Linked DNA regions of Homo sapiens: region 1 is linked to region 2. Evidence: fine-mapped expression QTL. Tissue or cell type: breast. Region 2 holds a variant in brackets; the other region holds the start of a gene. All regions are shown on one strand. Distances are from middle to middle.

The links. PIP is the estimated chance that this variant, and not a neighbour inherited with it, causes the effect.
Region 1: it holds the start of LINC01239, and the variant in region 2 is fine-mapped to the expression of LINC01239 in breast (GTEx, PIP 0.95).

The regions. Positions count from the first base shown.
Region 1 is chr9:22,643,065-22,651,255 of GRCh38, reverse strand. LINC01239 (long intergenic non-protein coding RNA 1239) reads right to left here and starts at 5,056. Exons shown (of 6, transcript NR_038977.1): 1 at 4,960-5,056.
Region 2 is chr9:22,952,673-22,960,863 of GRCh38, reverse strand. It overlaps LOC124902132 (a long non-coding RNA gene), which reads right to left and starts at 3,911. Exons shown (of 3, transcript XR_007061438.1): 1 at 3,834-3,911; 2 at 3,411-3,491. The variant G/C (reference allele first, on the strand shown) is at 4,241.

The DNA of each region.
Region 1 (8,191 bases), 310 kb after region 2:
GTTTTCAGAAAAGTGCCAAAAGTACCTCATCTTCTCCCATAAAAGCCAGAGAAGATGATGACAGTCCAGCTGCTTGGTAAGGATTGCTCACCCTTTATGGGCTCCCAGAAGCTTCTATGCAACATAAAGAAATTCATATTTTTATTGCCTCATATTCTCTCAGCATGAAGAAGAATTTACATTTCTTAATTGGATTTCTTTCTCTCAGCACAAGAAATTGCAACAATCTCACTAGACTCCATTGCTTAACAGCCCCAAGAAGCAGTTGTATAACTTATTTATAAGGCAGGGTGTAGGGCAAAGTTTTTCAGTAAAGTTCAAGGACTACTTACATCAAGATTCCTTAAAATGCATTGTAAAAATCCAGAGTCTTAGCCTATGCTCCAGAGCTACTGAAGTAGACTCTCTAAATTTGAGACTCTGAAATCTGTGTTTAGAAAAGCTCTATATGATCTTTATTTAGTCATAAATTTGATAATTACCAATTTAACAGAAATGACAGATTTTGGAACACATCTGGGAAAGTCTCTATTTAACTGTTTCCCCTACCTCCACGCCCCACTGGGGCTGATCGGTATGAAATGGTAACGTACACCTGTGCTATTTAAGTTGTAAGGGTACTACTATTTGAAAGGACACAGAATTTATGTAGTTAAAAGAATCCTCAACTTTTTAATCCATGAAGGAAACTCGGAGAGTCTTCTAAGCTTATTTTTCTATGTTACAGACAGAGTATTTTCACTACAACTTAAAATTCTGGAGGCAAACTCTTATGCCTTAAAATATACTCTAAAATGAAACCTGCCCCATTTCAAAGTGCCTGTGAAGATGGGCATTGTTGTTCAGGGTCTATAATCATGTATCTGTGTCATGGTTCTGGGATGTAGTAATAGAGCCAGAGCTTAGTTGTTGATTTGGAAGTTCAGGTTAGCACTTTTGTTTATGAAAGCACAACTATGGGAGATTGCGAAAAGCATGGTGGGCCAATCTTACTGTAATTCTTGCTCTATAAGCTGTTTAGGTTCTTGTATTTGTACGAAATAATTGTATAGTTATTAAAAGTATTAAATTGCTAAGCTGGAAACTCCTAGCTCCTCCCCGTTGATAACTACCTCATCTACTACAGAGAACTGAGCTGATTGAGAAGCAAAAAAAAAAAAAGAAAAGAAAAAAAAAAAAGAAAAGAAAATGAGAAAATGTGTGTGTCTCTCAGTTAATTCTAATCCTAAGTGTAGAGTATATAGTCTCCATTTGCCGTATGAAAAAACAGAGAGGTTTTAGAAAGGAAATACTTTTTCCATAGTTATATGTGACCAAGATAAAATTTGAGCTAAATTCTAAACTGACTAGCTCTAAAGGCTGTGCTTTCTCCAAAGGAACAGAAGAAAAACAAATGCCAGAAAAGAAGGGAAAGACGCAGAGGAGCAGATATAAGAGAGGGAACAAACAACCAAATAAGTTTCCATGGTAGGCTTTATTGAAATTAGGAAATTTCTAAGAGAAATTATTGTGGTGACCCCCAAAGCACAGAATAGGGGCTACAGTACATGAGGCAATGTAGTTTGTCTGTAAAATGTGTTGTGATCATGTCTGTAAGAATCTGCTATTTCCTAAGAAAGAGTACAGCTCTGGTATTTCATTCTGGCATTAACCCCACAGAGCTACAGTGACTTATCAGCATGCCTTTATCCATTAGTATAACAGAGAGAACAAAAATATCCGCTAGCCATTCATTTCTGCAAACAGAGCTCAAGTGTTTTGCAACAAAGTTATTTTCCTATGCTTATGCCAACTAGAGACGTTTTGACTCCTATCACAACACTGTCACTAAATCTTTTCAGTTAACCATTTCTTCTTTCTCTTGGATAAAAATAAGTTACAGTGCCTAAAAAGTAGAATTATCCTTTGAAATGTAAGTCTCCAAATAGTTTGAATCTTTATACATAGAAATTTTCATTATGAAATGTAAAGGATTCTGAAATTAGCCATCAGAGCCTATGATTGTTTTCCCCATTTTAAAGTTCAGAAATTCATGTGACTGTTCCATATTTTATTAAAATTTTAGCTGCTTAAATCTTTTTTCTTTAGGTTTTGAGAGGCAGGTGCAATGGAGCGGGCGTGCAGGAGGTTGTATAATAATTGCAACCAAAAGAAAAAAGATGCGTGAGTTAGACTCATTGGTAGCTGAAAAACATTAACAGCCAGAAAGTTTCCTTCTCAAGCTTTAAATAAATATTTTATGAAATGTCAATAAAATTTTTCTAAAGATTAGATCTTGCCTCCTAAGAACCTTCTTGGTGTCTATGAGTGGAGTATTTATATTGACAACTCTCAAACTATAATGAAATGTATGTCACCAGTAGCAGCCAACTTAGAATTGGGCACTCCAAAAATAACCTGATTTAGTGAAATAACAGTTATGGTCAGGCCCATGGGCAGGGTGAGTATGAAAGCCACTGCTTTGGGACAAAATGATTATATAATGGGCTGTTTCGGAGCTACCTTAAAAGGAAACATATCCTTCTATTGCAATGGGATATTTCTGAGTTCTCTGCACCCCTAAAGCTCTTCTTGTTGCATTATTAGCTATGTGAGGAAATCATAAAGGGGATAAATAAGGGAGTTGGTGGGGGACAGGAATCTATTACCTCATACTCCAAAAACACTAATGGCTCACTTACATTGGTTATATATGAAATTTGAACAACATAACATCTTTTAAAAAGTAGTTCCCCTAGGTGGAGGGAGATGGGTGAACAAATAGGATCAATGTGGAAAACTTTTTGTCTACAGCACTATTGAATTAACACTTTCCCAACATTCTAGACACCTCACATCAAATAGTGGAGTTTCTATCCATTTGACTCATACATTACTAAGTAGCAATAGCTTTCTTAAAATGTCCATTTGTTCGAGTCAGTCTTTTCCTTAGAAATCTAAAAGAATTTTCATATAACTCTCTTAAAATTAGTATTATTTTCTCTCTATCATATACACACACACTCAATATTTTACTATACCCAGCACTTTGGGAGGCCGAGGCGGGCGGATCACGAGGTCAGGAGATCCAGACCATCCTGGCTAACACGGTGAGACCCCGTCTCTACTAACAACAATACAAAAAATTAGCCAGGTGTGGTGGCGGGCGCCTGTAGTCCCAGCTACTCGGGAAGCTGAGGCAGGAGAATGGCGTGAACCTGGGAGGCTGAGCTTGTAGTGAGCCGAGATAGGGCCACTGCACTCCAGCATGGGCGACAGAGCAAGACTCTGTCATAAATAAATAAATAAATAAATAAATAAATAAATAAATAAATAAATTTTACTATAAAAGAAGACATTCCTGTGTGTGTATGCTAACATCAACTGATACTATTATTTGCACTTTGTCCACTTGAAATACTTTCGTATTATCACCAAACTCACTTTCAAATCCCTTTGTAAAGTACTGAAGAGAAAATTTAGAAAAGGGTATGAGAAAGCAATTCACATAAGAAAATAAACAGGTAATATAACGGAAGTAGTATCTATATTTGTGAGTCACAAAAATGAACTAGAAATCACAGTGAGATATCATTATTCACTTTACACAAATGAGAAGATAGAAATAAAAGCATCGGCTGGGCGCGGTGGCTCACGCCTGTAATCCCAGCACTTTGGGAGGCCGAGGCGGGTGGATCACAAGGTCAGGAGATCAAGATCATCCTGGCTAACACAGTGAAGCCCCGTCTCTACTAAAAATACAAAAATTAGCCGGGCGTGGTGGCGGGTGCCTGTAGTCCCAGCTACTCGGGAGGCTGAGGCAGGAGAATGGCGCTAACCCGGGAGGCGGAGCTTGCAGTGAGCCAAGATGGCACCACTGCACTCCAGCCTGGGCTACAGAGTGAGACTCCGTCTCAAAAAAAAAAAAAAAAAAAGAAAAGAAAAGAAAAGAAGTAAAAGCATCAATTTCACCACAAAAAATTAATTTGGAGGATAAAGTATAATATGAGAACCCACTGGCATGATAATAATCCAGGAATTATACAGACTTCCCCCTGTTAAAAGCAATGCTAAGCTAGATCATGTGTACCAATTTACAAAGGTAAAATCTTGCTCTCTGAGGGCAGCTGTCTTCTAAGACAAAAAGGGTGGAACTATTCGGAGCATGTCTAATTGATTTTTTCCAAATTTATTAATCAGAGTGAATCACTCCATCTTCTCTGGTAGATAGTGAATAGAAGAGCAGAGAGAGGCAAGGAGTGTAGCACACGGAAGACCACATTCACCTGGAAAGAAATATCAGGACTGAGGACAAGAATTCCTCTCCACACCTTCTCCCCACCCCATCACCCTGCCAAATTCCAGTACAAAATAGTTTCACTAGCTGGTCTATCATAGCTTTGGAAAATCCAATAGTAGAGATTCAGTTATTTGAATAGAGTTTCTTTTTTAATAACAAATGACCCCAGGAGGCAAAATACCGATAAATCCTATAACCTTTAGTATGTTATCAGAAACGAAAGTAGCCTTGAGAAAAGGAGAGATCAGACTGGAAAAAGGAAAACGGACTCAGAAACTTAGTTATCTCAGCTATGAAAATTAGGTAGTTGAACTCCTTGAAATACAGGGCTCCATCCAATACTATGTACCAATTGTGGGATAACTAGAAGTAAATACAGAGTTAAAACTGTAGTCTCAGTTGTTGTCGGTAATAACAGCAGAGATTGCAACCTAAAGGGAATGTGCAGCACGATCAGATGCACACAATCTATTTTCCACTTCTCTAGTGTGTCTCAGCTTGTTAAGGTTAAATACAGAATTTTTTTTCTATTTTGCTTTATCTGTCAGTATAAGATAATTAAAAAGAAGTGAACTTCCTTCATCCATTTATCTTGGATGGCATGCACACTTTATTCTGTTATCACCAAAAACATAAAACCTAGAGAAAATGCAAATTAAAATTTTTATAAATGTACATACCACATAGTTTTATAGACATCTATGTTCCACTCTTAAGCCAGGGTCAAAGTAGAATTCTCTTTGGTCTCTCTTCCCTTAGAGGAACAGAAAATAAAAGACCGAGAAAACAGACTGTGATGGAGGATTCATTATAAGCCAAAACCTGAATCACCATAATTACACACAGTTCATAAGTGCAAATCGTACCCATCTCTTGGCAGATTAAAAAGCCAAGTGATGAGTAATATTGCTGAGCTAAACATGCCTGTTTCATAAGCCACTCAAATCAACACTCCTGTTATCCCTTGACACACAGGCAAAAATTCTATCTGTAAGCCTAATAAAATCTCATTTGTTTTACCTGAAGGTCCTATGAACCACCTGGTGCCTCTCTTTGCACTTGTTTTTCTCTATTAACTTATGCTTTGTAGAAATTAAGGCTTTAATCTGATAATTCTTTCCACTAGCTTTTAATTATTAGGTTAATGTGTGAATTTGAAGCAAGCAGTCCAATATGAAACTATTAAGAAAAAAGTTGAAAATGCTGAATGATATTAGAAATTCTAGACGGTAAAATTTAGACAATAATTAGTCTTCTGATTTTTCCTAATGACAGTTTGTAGGAAATACAGGTTGAGCATCTCTAATCCAAAAGTTCAAAACTGGAAATGCTCCAAAATCTAAACTTTTTGATTGCTGACATGATGCCACAAGTGGAAAATTCCACACTTGATTTCATATGACAAATCTCAGTCAAAACACAGACAGAACTTTGTTTCAGGTACAAAGTTACGTAAAATATTATATAAAATTATCTTCAGTTTTGTGTATACAGTGTATATTAAACATAAATGAATTTTGTGTTTAGACTTGTGTCCCATCCTTAAGATGTCTCATTATGCATATGCAAATAAATATTCCCAAATCTGAAAAAAAAAAAATCTGAAATCTGAAACACTTTTGGTTCCAAGCATTTTGCATATGCGATAGTCAATCTATACTGTACAATGCTAGGTTATATTCACAAAAGAGTTGTTCACAACAGTCTCAACTTTTGATTAGAAAGTTGTTATTGCGGTAGCTAAATCTATAAACTTTTTAGCACATCAATATGGTAACTGCTACACATAAATATAAAATTTATTTTTAGCTTTAAGTTTAATGACTTCTCTTTAAAAAAAAAGCTAATAGTCAAATACAATGTATGTTTTCAAATTTAAAATATTTTTGCTTAAGAGTAAGATTTAAGCTTAGTGACGAGAAAAAACCTGAGACGTTTCTTGAGATATAAATATTGTAGCCTTTAATTATTAAGTGTTTTCAGAAGCAAAAATTAGCAGCCAACTATTTGCTAATAAAGAATTAAGTAACTTGTACTTTAAATACCTTATTGGTAAACTTACATCCTTTTTCTTGAAGAAATCAACCATACTAAGAAAAAAACTCACAGAAAGTTTTGTAAGTCAAGTAAAGGTTTGGTCTTAACACAGGCTCAGTTATGATGCCTCCACTGAAATTTGTTCAAGTGTGGCAGAATATGACAAAAATATTCCCAGTTTCTGTCGATGTATGAGCAGAGAAAGAAAAATGTCTATTGTTTGTCAAGTCACTAAAATTTCATGCTCCCTATTTTGTTCTTTTTATTTTTTCATTCTATGTTGCTCTGTCTCATCTGAGATTAGTGCCCTTATAAAAAGAGATATGAGAGGGCTTGCTTCTTTTGGCTTTCCTCCATGTGGGAATATAAGGGAAAAGCAGCCATCTGCAAACCAGGAAGCCAGCCTTCACCAGACACTAGATCTACTGACACCTTCATCTTGGACTTCCCAGCCTCCAGAACTGTGTGGTCACATAAGCTACCCAATGTATGGTGTATCTGTTTTAGCTGCTCAATCTAACACACATGGAGGAAAGCGGACAGGACACAAGCCCTCTCATATCTCTTTTTATAAGGGCATGAATCTCATTCCTAGGGTTCCACCCTCATGTCCTAATTACCTCCCAAAGGCTCCACCTATAAATACCATCATTTTAATGATTAAACTTCAACATACTAACTTGATTTGGGGGTAAGGGTATGCAGATATTCAATCCATAGCATCCTGCGACCTCCTCTTCTCTAACCCTCCACCAACCCTTGACAATCATGAGGAAACTGACACAAACTATATAACTATATGCTTATATTTTTTCTATCCCCATCTATTGCTGGATCATTTTCTATTACATCTTTGCCTTATTACATTCCAGAATATGAGTTTATCCACAGAGAGCTCATTGCTTCCTGAGACTGTTCAATTATGATTTAGACAACACTAATTACATTTCTTTTTAAAAATATTTTTTTCTGGTGTTGAACCAAAATCTTCATCCCTTAATTTTCCTCCATGGGTTCTAGTTCTGCCACCTGTTTTCTACATAGCAACTCTTTCAAAATATTAAACTTCAGATTTCACATGCTTCTGAGTTATTTGACTTTTCTCCATAACAAGTATCAACAGTTGTTTATGCCATTTCTCATATAAAGCACTCCTTGTAACTGAGGAACACTGTGGCTTCTACCCAAGGAGGAGAAACTATGCATATTTGAGTGGTGAAGAAACTGAAACTGAGTGTGAGAAATCCAGTTGATATAATAATCCTGAAAAAACATTAATGTTAAAAGCATGCATTCAAAGAAGATATTCTTAGGCAATTTTCTTTGAAGTCCATGTAGATTTCCTGCTTTTTTGAAAGTATTTAAAATCAGAGAATGTAATGAAAACACCTGGTTTCAAATGCCAGCTCCACAACAGCATAGGTTTGTGATGTTAGGCCAGCTTCTCTACTTCTCTGAGTATCATTATCTAAAAGTAGGGGAAAAGAGTCATTAATTTGAAGTTAAATGAGATAATATTAATACATTTAAAGTGCTTTAGTCAGTGGCGAGCTCATAATAATTCACTACATATTAGTTATGTTTTTATATTCACTGGAAAACAATCAATAGTTTTCTGTAAAGTTGATGGATTGCAAAATGGGGAGGAGGGAATCTACAGATTTCATCCTTTTAACTGGGAAAGATATTTAATACTGAGAATGGTAATAAATAGGTTCCCAAATTTTAAAATTAGATTTTTTTGCTAATACCTGAAGATAATTACCATTTATTAGCATCTTTTGGAAAGCCTGGAAAAGGAGCAGTTTGACAAATGAATTTAAATGACTTATTTGGAATTCTAATTTCTGATTATTATAAAGATGGTTTTGAGGT
Region 2 (8,191 bases):
GTCTGCTGAGCATTAGTGCTGCTTTTAACACCATTGGTTTTTATATCCTTATAATGACCTCCTTTGTTTTAGTACACAAAATTGTCCTTTTATCGATGTGCTGAGGTATATACCTTCCATAGAAAATCATCAAGATAAAGTGAGGTTTTGTGATTCAACTCTCATGTTTTGATTTCTTCAGTGATTTTGTTATCTCACTTTCTGGCTGCAGGTGGTTTTGCAGATAAACAGTTGGATTATTTCAGAAGCCTTAGAGTTCTTCCTATTACACATTCAAGTCAATGGTATCAAAGAGGTCCATTGTAAGAACTCATTCTTTCATAAATGGAAAAGTCTAATATAAGAATAACTAAATTAACTAAAAAATTCTGTTTCACAGTATTAAAAAGACAAAGAAGAAAATATATGTGAGTGGGTGTCTTAATCCATTTTCTGCTGTTGTAACAGCATAACAAAAGCTAGGTAATTTATAAAGAATAGGGTTTTATTTGGTCACAGTTCTAGAAGTAGGGAAGTCCAAGAGCATGGTGCTGACATCTTGTGAGGACCTTCTTGCTATGTTACCCTATAATAGAAAGGCATCACATGGTTAGTGAGTGTGCAAGGCAGGAAGAGCAAGAAGGCTGAACATGTCCTGTCATCAGGAGCCCACTCCCATGATAACTAATCATCTTTCAGGATAACAGATTAATCTATTCATGAGGACAGAGCCCTAATGACCTAATCACATCTTAAAGGCCCCACTCCACCAAACTGTTTCATTGAGCATAAAGTTCACAAAACATGAGCTTTGGGAGATATATTCAGGAAATAGCAGTGGAAAAATGTAAGTAGCAACTAAAGCTGCATAGAATCAAACACCAAACTGAAAAGCTTGAAACCGGTTTAAAGGGCATTTATAGTCATTGAAGGTTTTGAAGAAGCAAGGAAGATTACTGAGAGGGTAAAAAAGAGTGAGAGCTTGCTATTTTACATATTACCTACCCGACTCTACCCTCTGACAACAATGGACCTTTAGCACAACTGCAGATGGATTCTCCCTACCACATTATTGTACTCAACTAAACACATGCAGATTTGGAGACTAGCCAGAATCATTCCCCAAAATGAAAATACTTGTTTCTAATAAGTTTACCACAACTACTTTGTGTTTACTTATCCTACGTGACTCTTGTGACAGAGGACCTTGAGTTTAGAGAACAGGTAAAAGAAACGGCTTTGAGTTGGTAAGAAGACAAGTTATAGCTTGTGTATGGAAAGAAGCAATATGGATTATGAGTAGATAAAGATAAATTCTTGCCTGAAGGGTAATACAGTACAGGAATCTTATACAAATTCCCATAAGGTGGTTTCTCCTTTCTCTGAAAACAATAAAGAAATGCTCATATTTACAGTGAAGTGGATGTAAATATTTAGAACAGTGGCAAAAATTTGGAAAAACATCTAAACCAAAGTAATTAGAGGAGGATGTAATCAAAGAAAAGTACACAGTTTTTCTGGCTTGACTGAGAACCCATTGGAATGGACAATTACATCTATATGGTAATACTAATATCTAGGTTTAGGTTTTCCGTAGCAAGCTCTGGAATGGGGAGGCAGATAAATAAAGAAATATGAAAATTGATGTTATTGTGTATAATCTGGCTGAAATGATGGAACACTATTTTAGGATGAAGAGGAAGATAAAACAGAGGGAAGCTGAAGTGCAGAGGGGAAATAAGGCAATTAATTATTGGGAGAAAATGTGGGTTCAAAATAAGACACATTGACCAATGGAACAGAATTGAGAGCTGGGAAATAAAGCCACACACCTACAACCATCTGGTCTTCAGCAAAGTTGACAAAAACAAGCAATGGGGAAAGGGTTACCTATTCAATAATGTGCTGGGATAACTGTGTAGCATACGCACAAAATTGAAGCTCGACCCCTTTATTACACCATATACAAAAATCAACTCAAGATTGATTAAATGCCTAAATGTAAAACCTAAAACTGTAAAAACTCTGGAAGATAACCTAGAAAATACTATTCTGGACATAGGCCCTGGCAAAGACTTCATGATGAAGACACCAAAAGCCATTGCAACAAAAACAAAAGTTGACAGACGGGATCTAATTTAACTAAAGAGATTCTGCACAGCAAAAGAAACCATCAACAGAGTAAACAGGCAGCCTACAGAATGGGAGAAAATATTTGCAATTGATGCATCTGACAAAGGTCTAATATCTAGCATCTTTAAGAAACTTAAATATTCAAGCAAAAAACAAACAGTCTCATTAAAAAGTAAGTAAAAGACGGCCGGGAGCGGTGGCTCACACCTATAATCCCAGCACTTTGGGAGGCCGAGGCGGGTGGATCACAAAGTGAAGAAATCGAGACCATCCTGGCTAACACGGTGAAACCCCGTCTCTACTAAAAAAAAAAAAAAAAAAAAAAAATACAAAAAATTAGCCGGGTGTAGGTGGCGGGCGCTTGTAGTCCCAGCTACTTGGGAGGCTGAGGCAGGAGAATGGCGTGAACCCAGGAGGCAGAGCTTGCAGTGAGTCAAGATCACGCCACTTCACTCCAGCCTGGGCGACAGAGCAAGACTCGTCTCAAAAAAAAAAAAAAAAAAAAAAAAAAAAAAAAAGTAAGTAAAGGACATGAACAGATAGTTTTCCAAAGAAGACATACACATGACCAACAAGCACATGAAAAAGCGCTTGACATCACTAATCGTTAGAGAAATGAAAATTAAAACCACAACAAGATACCATCTCAGACCAGTCAGAATGGGTATTATTAAACAGTCAAAAAATAATAGATGCTGGCAAGGTTATAGAGAAAAAGGAGCACTTATACACTGCTGATGGGAATGTAAATTAGTTCAGCCATTGTGGAAAGTAGTTTGGAGATTTCTCAAAAAACTTAAAATGGGACTACCATTCAATCCAGGAATCCCATTATTGGGTATATACCCAGAGGAATATAAATCATTCTACCATAAAGACATATGCATGCGTATATTCATGGCAGCACTATTCATAATAAGCAAAGACATAGAAACAATCTAAATGCCCATCAGTGGTGGTATGGATGACGAAAATGTGATATATATATATATGTGTGTGTGTGTGTGCATATGTGTGTGTGTGTATATATATATAAATACTATGCAGCCATAACAAAGAATGAGATCATGTCCTTTGCAGCAACATGGATGGAGCTGGAGGCCATTATCTGATGCAAACTAAAGCAGGAATAGAAAACCAAATACTGCACGTTCCTACCTATAAGTGGGAGCTAAACATTGAGTACACATGGACGCAAAGAAGGGACCTGCAGACACCAGGGCCTACTTGAGGGTGAAGCATGGGAGAAGGAAGGGGGAGAGATAGAAAAACTACCTATCGAATACAATGCTTATTACCTGGGTGATGAAAGTCTGTACACCAAACTCCCACAGCAAGCAATTTACCTATAGAAAAAGTCTGCACATATACCAATGAACCTGAAATGAAAGTTAAAAGATAAATATTTTCTTCCACAAAACCAATGAGTAAAAATATTTTTAAAGTTAGAATCCACCTATTTGAGAACTCTAGAAATTAACCAAAGTCTTGTAGTAACTCAGGGAGTATTCATTCAAGAAAAGTGACTGAATCTTAGGAAGAACTTATGGCTTTTTTTTTTTTGCTTTTTAGCTTTATTCTCATCACTTGTTCTCCAGCTGTGGGGTAGCCTTGAAAAATAATAGCCCACATTTGCAGTAAAAAGCAACAATAGTGCAGGCACTAGAGACAACAGAGACGGTTAGAGCTCATTCCCAAATAATTACCGTTGTCTGACTTACCTGGTAATTTCATGGAAGACCCCACTTGCAAAGCTATCTATACTGACATGACTTAGAGCTCACCCAGCATGAACAGCCTTTTCCTGGAGGTAGGGGAGGGGAGGAGTTGGTAAAAACAAACAAAGAAACACAACAGGGAATTATTGTTTAACTTTATGGTCCTAAGGCAGTGGATAATATTTCTATCAAACAATAGTATAAACAAAAAGCTTAAAAGTAAAAGCTGGAAATTAGATGTTCCTAAGGCTTTGAAAAACTCAGCAGTATTCCCAGGAATCTTGAAGGCCACACACAGGCAGACAGTGTTCTCTCCTTCTTAGGAAAGACATAAGAAGGTCCTAAATTCTCATCACTGAATAATCTTGTGGCTTTATGCAAACAGGAAGTAAAGGCAAAGGCAGATTTGA[G/C]AAAAACCTGACTGAGTGTTGAAGATATGCCCCAATATGCACACAGAGCTTCTCAGCAAAGACTAACTGCATTTTTTCCAAAAATCAATTGTTCATATACAGTAAAGGTCTACTTCTGGGCTCTATCATATTCCATTGATCTATATGTCTATCTTTACATGAATAGCACACTGTTCTGATTACTATATGCTATCGACTGACTGTCTTTCCAAAATTCATATGTTAAACGCTGATCTCCACCATGGTGATATTTGGAGGCAGGGCCTTTGGGAGGTGATTAGTTCATGAATTGTAGTACCTTTTATGAATGAGATTAGTGCATTTATAAGAAAAGACCAGAGAGTTAGTCCACACTCTTTCTGCCATGTGAGGATATAATGAGACGTTAGCAGTCTGCAAAATAGAAGAGGGCCCTCACCAGAACCTGACCATCCTGATACCCTGATCTCAGACCTCCAATCTCCAGAACTGTGAGAAATAAATTTTTGCTATTTTTAAGTCATCCAGCCCACTGTACTTCTTTATAGCAATCTGAACTAAGACACTATAGATTTATAAAATTTTCATCTTTTCAAATATATTTTTGCTGTAGTTATTTGTATACTTTTTATTTTCATATAAATTTAGAATCATCTTGTCATATTTTATAAAATAATTATTTTTAAAAAATAAGGATTTCACTGACTATAGAGTTCAGCCTGTGGAGAACTGTTATCTTAAGCATGTTGGATCTTCTGACCAATGAACAAAAAAAAATTTCAATTTATTTAAGCTTTTAATTTTTTTCTCAGCAATGTTTTGCAGTTTTCAGTGTCCCAGTACTTTACATATTATATCAGATTTATTCCACAGTATTGTTTTTTTTTTTGAGATGGAGTCTTACTCTGTCACCCAAGCTGGAGTGAAGTGGTGCGATCTCAGCTCACTGCAATCTCCGCCTCCCTGGTTCAAGTGATTCTTCTGCCTCAGTCTCCCAAGTAGCTGGGATTACAGGCATGTGCTACCACTCCTGCCTAATTTTTGTATTTTTAGTAGAGACAGGGTTTCGCTATGTTGGTCAGGCTGGTCTCGATCTCCTGACCTCAGGTAATCTGCCCATTTCAGGTCACAAAGTGCTGGGATTACAGGTGTGAGCCACCATGCCTGGCATATCCCACAGTATTTAAATACTTATGTCAATTTAAGTGGTATTTTTCTATTTCAGTCCTATGTTGTGCATTGTTAATACAAACAAATACAATTGATTTGTGCATAGTGATCTTGCATCCGGCAAGTCTTGCTAAATTCATCTATTCTAGAAGCTTTTTTGTATATCCAATGGATTTTCTACATATATGATCATGTCATCTCTGGATCAAACAGTTTTACCTTTTCTTTTCTACTTTGGATGCCTTTTAGTTCTTTATCTTCTTTCTCTGTTTGCACTGGCTAGAACATCCAGTACAATGTTTAACAGCAGTGATGAGGGTAAATATCCTTGTCTTTTTACTATCTTCGGGGGAACACTATCAGTGTTCCACTAATAAGTACAGTGTTAGCTTTTTAAACGATTGATTTTTTTTCAGGTTGAGGAAATACCCTTCTGTTTCTAATTAGCTGAGGTGGTTTTGTTCGTTTTCGTTTTTAATTAGAAATGAATGTTTGATTTTTGGCAAATGCTTTTCTGTGTCTTTCAAAAAGATAATATTACGTATTTCTAATTTTTAGTGCGTTAATATGGTGAATTAGAGTGACTGATTTTTGAATGTTGAACCAGCTTTACATTCTTGGTATATTCCTCACTTTTGTGACAAGGTATTATCTTTTTATATATATCTGGAGTTGTTTTGCTGGTGTTTTCATCAGAACATTGTTATGTCCATGAGGGATATTATTACGTAATCTTCTTTTCTTATAATGTCTTTGCTGGTTTCAGTAATGTGTAATGTTGACCTTAAAGAAAAAACTGGTAGGTATTCCCATATTGTCAACTTGCTGAAGGAATTTTTATAGAATTTGTATAATTATTTTTCCCTGAATATTTAGTAGAATTTACCAGTGAAGGCATCTGGGACTGAAGTTTTCATGGTAGGAAGGATTTTACCAAAAATATATATTTAAATATGTGGGACTATTCTTCTTATTTATTTTTTTGTTTTAGTGAACTTTGGTGGTTTGGGTCTTTTGAGAAATTTGTCTGTTTCATCCAGATTTTTGTATGTATTCTAGTTAAGTTGCTCATAATATTCCATTATTGTTCTTTTAATATCCGTAGAACAGTTTTCCTCAAACGTTATTTCAGTCACTACCCTATGAGTCTTTTTTGACTTTTTTCTTAATTGCCCCCAATAAATTTTAATTTCAGAGACATATTGTATGTCTATTTATGTATATGTAATCTATGCTTTATATATAAAGAATTTTTTGCCTCCTTCCCCAAAAGAACCTTTTTAAAATATATATTACTATTTAATTTAATTAATTTATTTTTAGAGATGGGGACTTGCTCTGTCCCCCAGGCTGGTGTGCAGTGAATTATAGCTTACTGTAGCCTCCAACTCCTGGGCTCAAATGATCCTCCTGCCTTGGCCTCCTGGGTAGCTGGGACTACAGGTAGGTGCATGCCACCACATTCAGATAAGCTTTTTTATTTTTTTTATAGATGGAAACTCAGTTTGTTGCCTGGTTGGTTTCAAACTCCTGGCTTTAAGCTGTCCTTCTAGCGCAGTCTCCCAGAGTGCTGGGATTACATGTGTGCGCCACCATGGCCAGCCTCAAAATTTTTTATTTCTGCTTTATTGTTTTTTCTCTTCTTACTTGGAGTTTTATTTGTTCTTTTTCTGGTTTCTGAAGGTGGAAGATAAGATCACTAACTTGCTGTTATTCCTCTTTTCTTACACAGGCATTTTGCACTATGAATTTCCCTTTAAGAACTGGCATACCACAAATTCTGATATGTTGGCTTTTCTTTTACATTTAATTCAAAATACTTTGAATGTCTCTTTTGATTTCTTCTTTGACTCATTTGTTTTAGAAATCTCTCATTTAATTTCCAAATACTTGGGTATTGCCCACATGCCTTTTTATTATTGACTTCTAATTTTTCTAATTTAATCCCATTGTAGTCAGAAACATACTTTGAATGACTGAGACTTTTTTTATGACACGGAGCTTTGTGACAAGTGATTTTACATTGAGTATCTCACCTAATTATCAAGAAAATCCTATAAGGTGGGCACTATTATTGTCACCATGCTATACATGAGGAAATAAAAGCTGAAAGGTGTTAAGCACATATCTAAAATCACGGTTATGAAGTAGTGGAGTCTGAGTGCTTAACCATTATTCAGTATATGTGTGTGTATATGTATACATATATACTGAATATGTATATTGAATATATATACTGTATATGTGTATATTGTGTATATGTATATGGAATATGTATATTGTATATTGAATATGCATATTGTATATATGTATATATAGGATATATTATATATAATGTATATACAATAGGTATGTATAGTATATTGAATATATATATTGTATATTGAATATATATACTGAATATATATATTCAGTATATGTGTATATATACAGAATATGTATACTGAATATATATACTGAATAATGATTAAGCACTCAGACTCCACTACTAGTTTTGAAAAGACAAAATTAATTTTTAAGTATATGTGTGCGTATATATATTTTATATATATGTGTGTGTATATTTATATATATATATATATGATTCTTTTATTTATTTATTTATTTATTTATTGAGACAAGGTCTCACTCTTACCAAGACTAGAGTGCAGTAGCTCAATCATGGCTCACTGCAGTCTTGACCTTCCAGACTCAAGCAATCCAGCCTCCCTAGTGGCTGGGACTACAGATGCATACTATCACACCCAGCTAATTTTTAAATATTTGTAGAGGTAGGTGTCACTATGTTACTCAGGCTGGTCT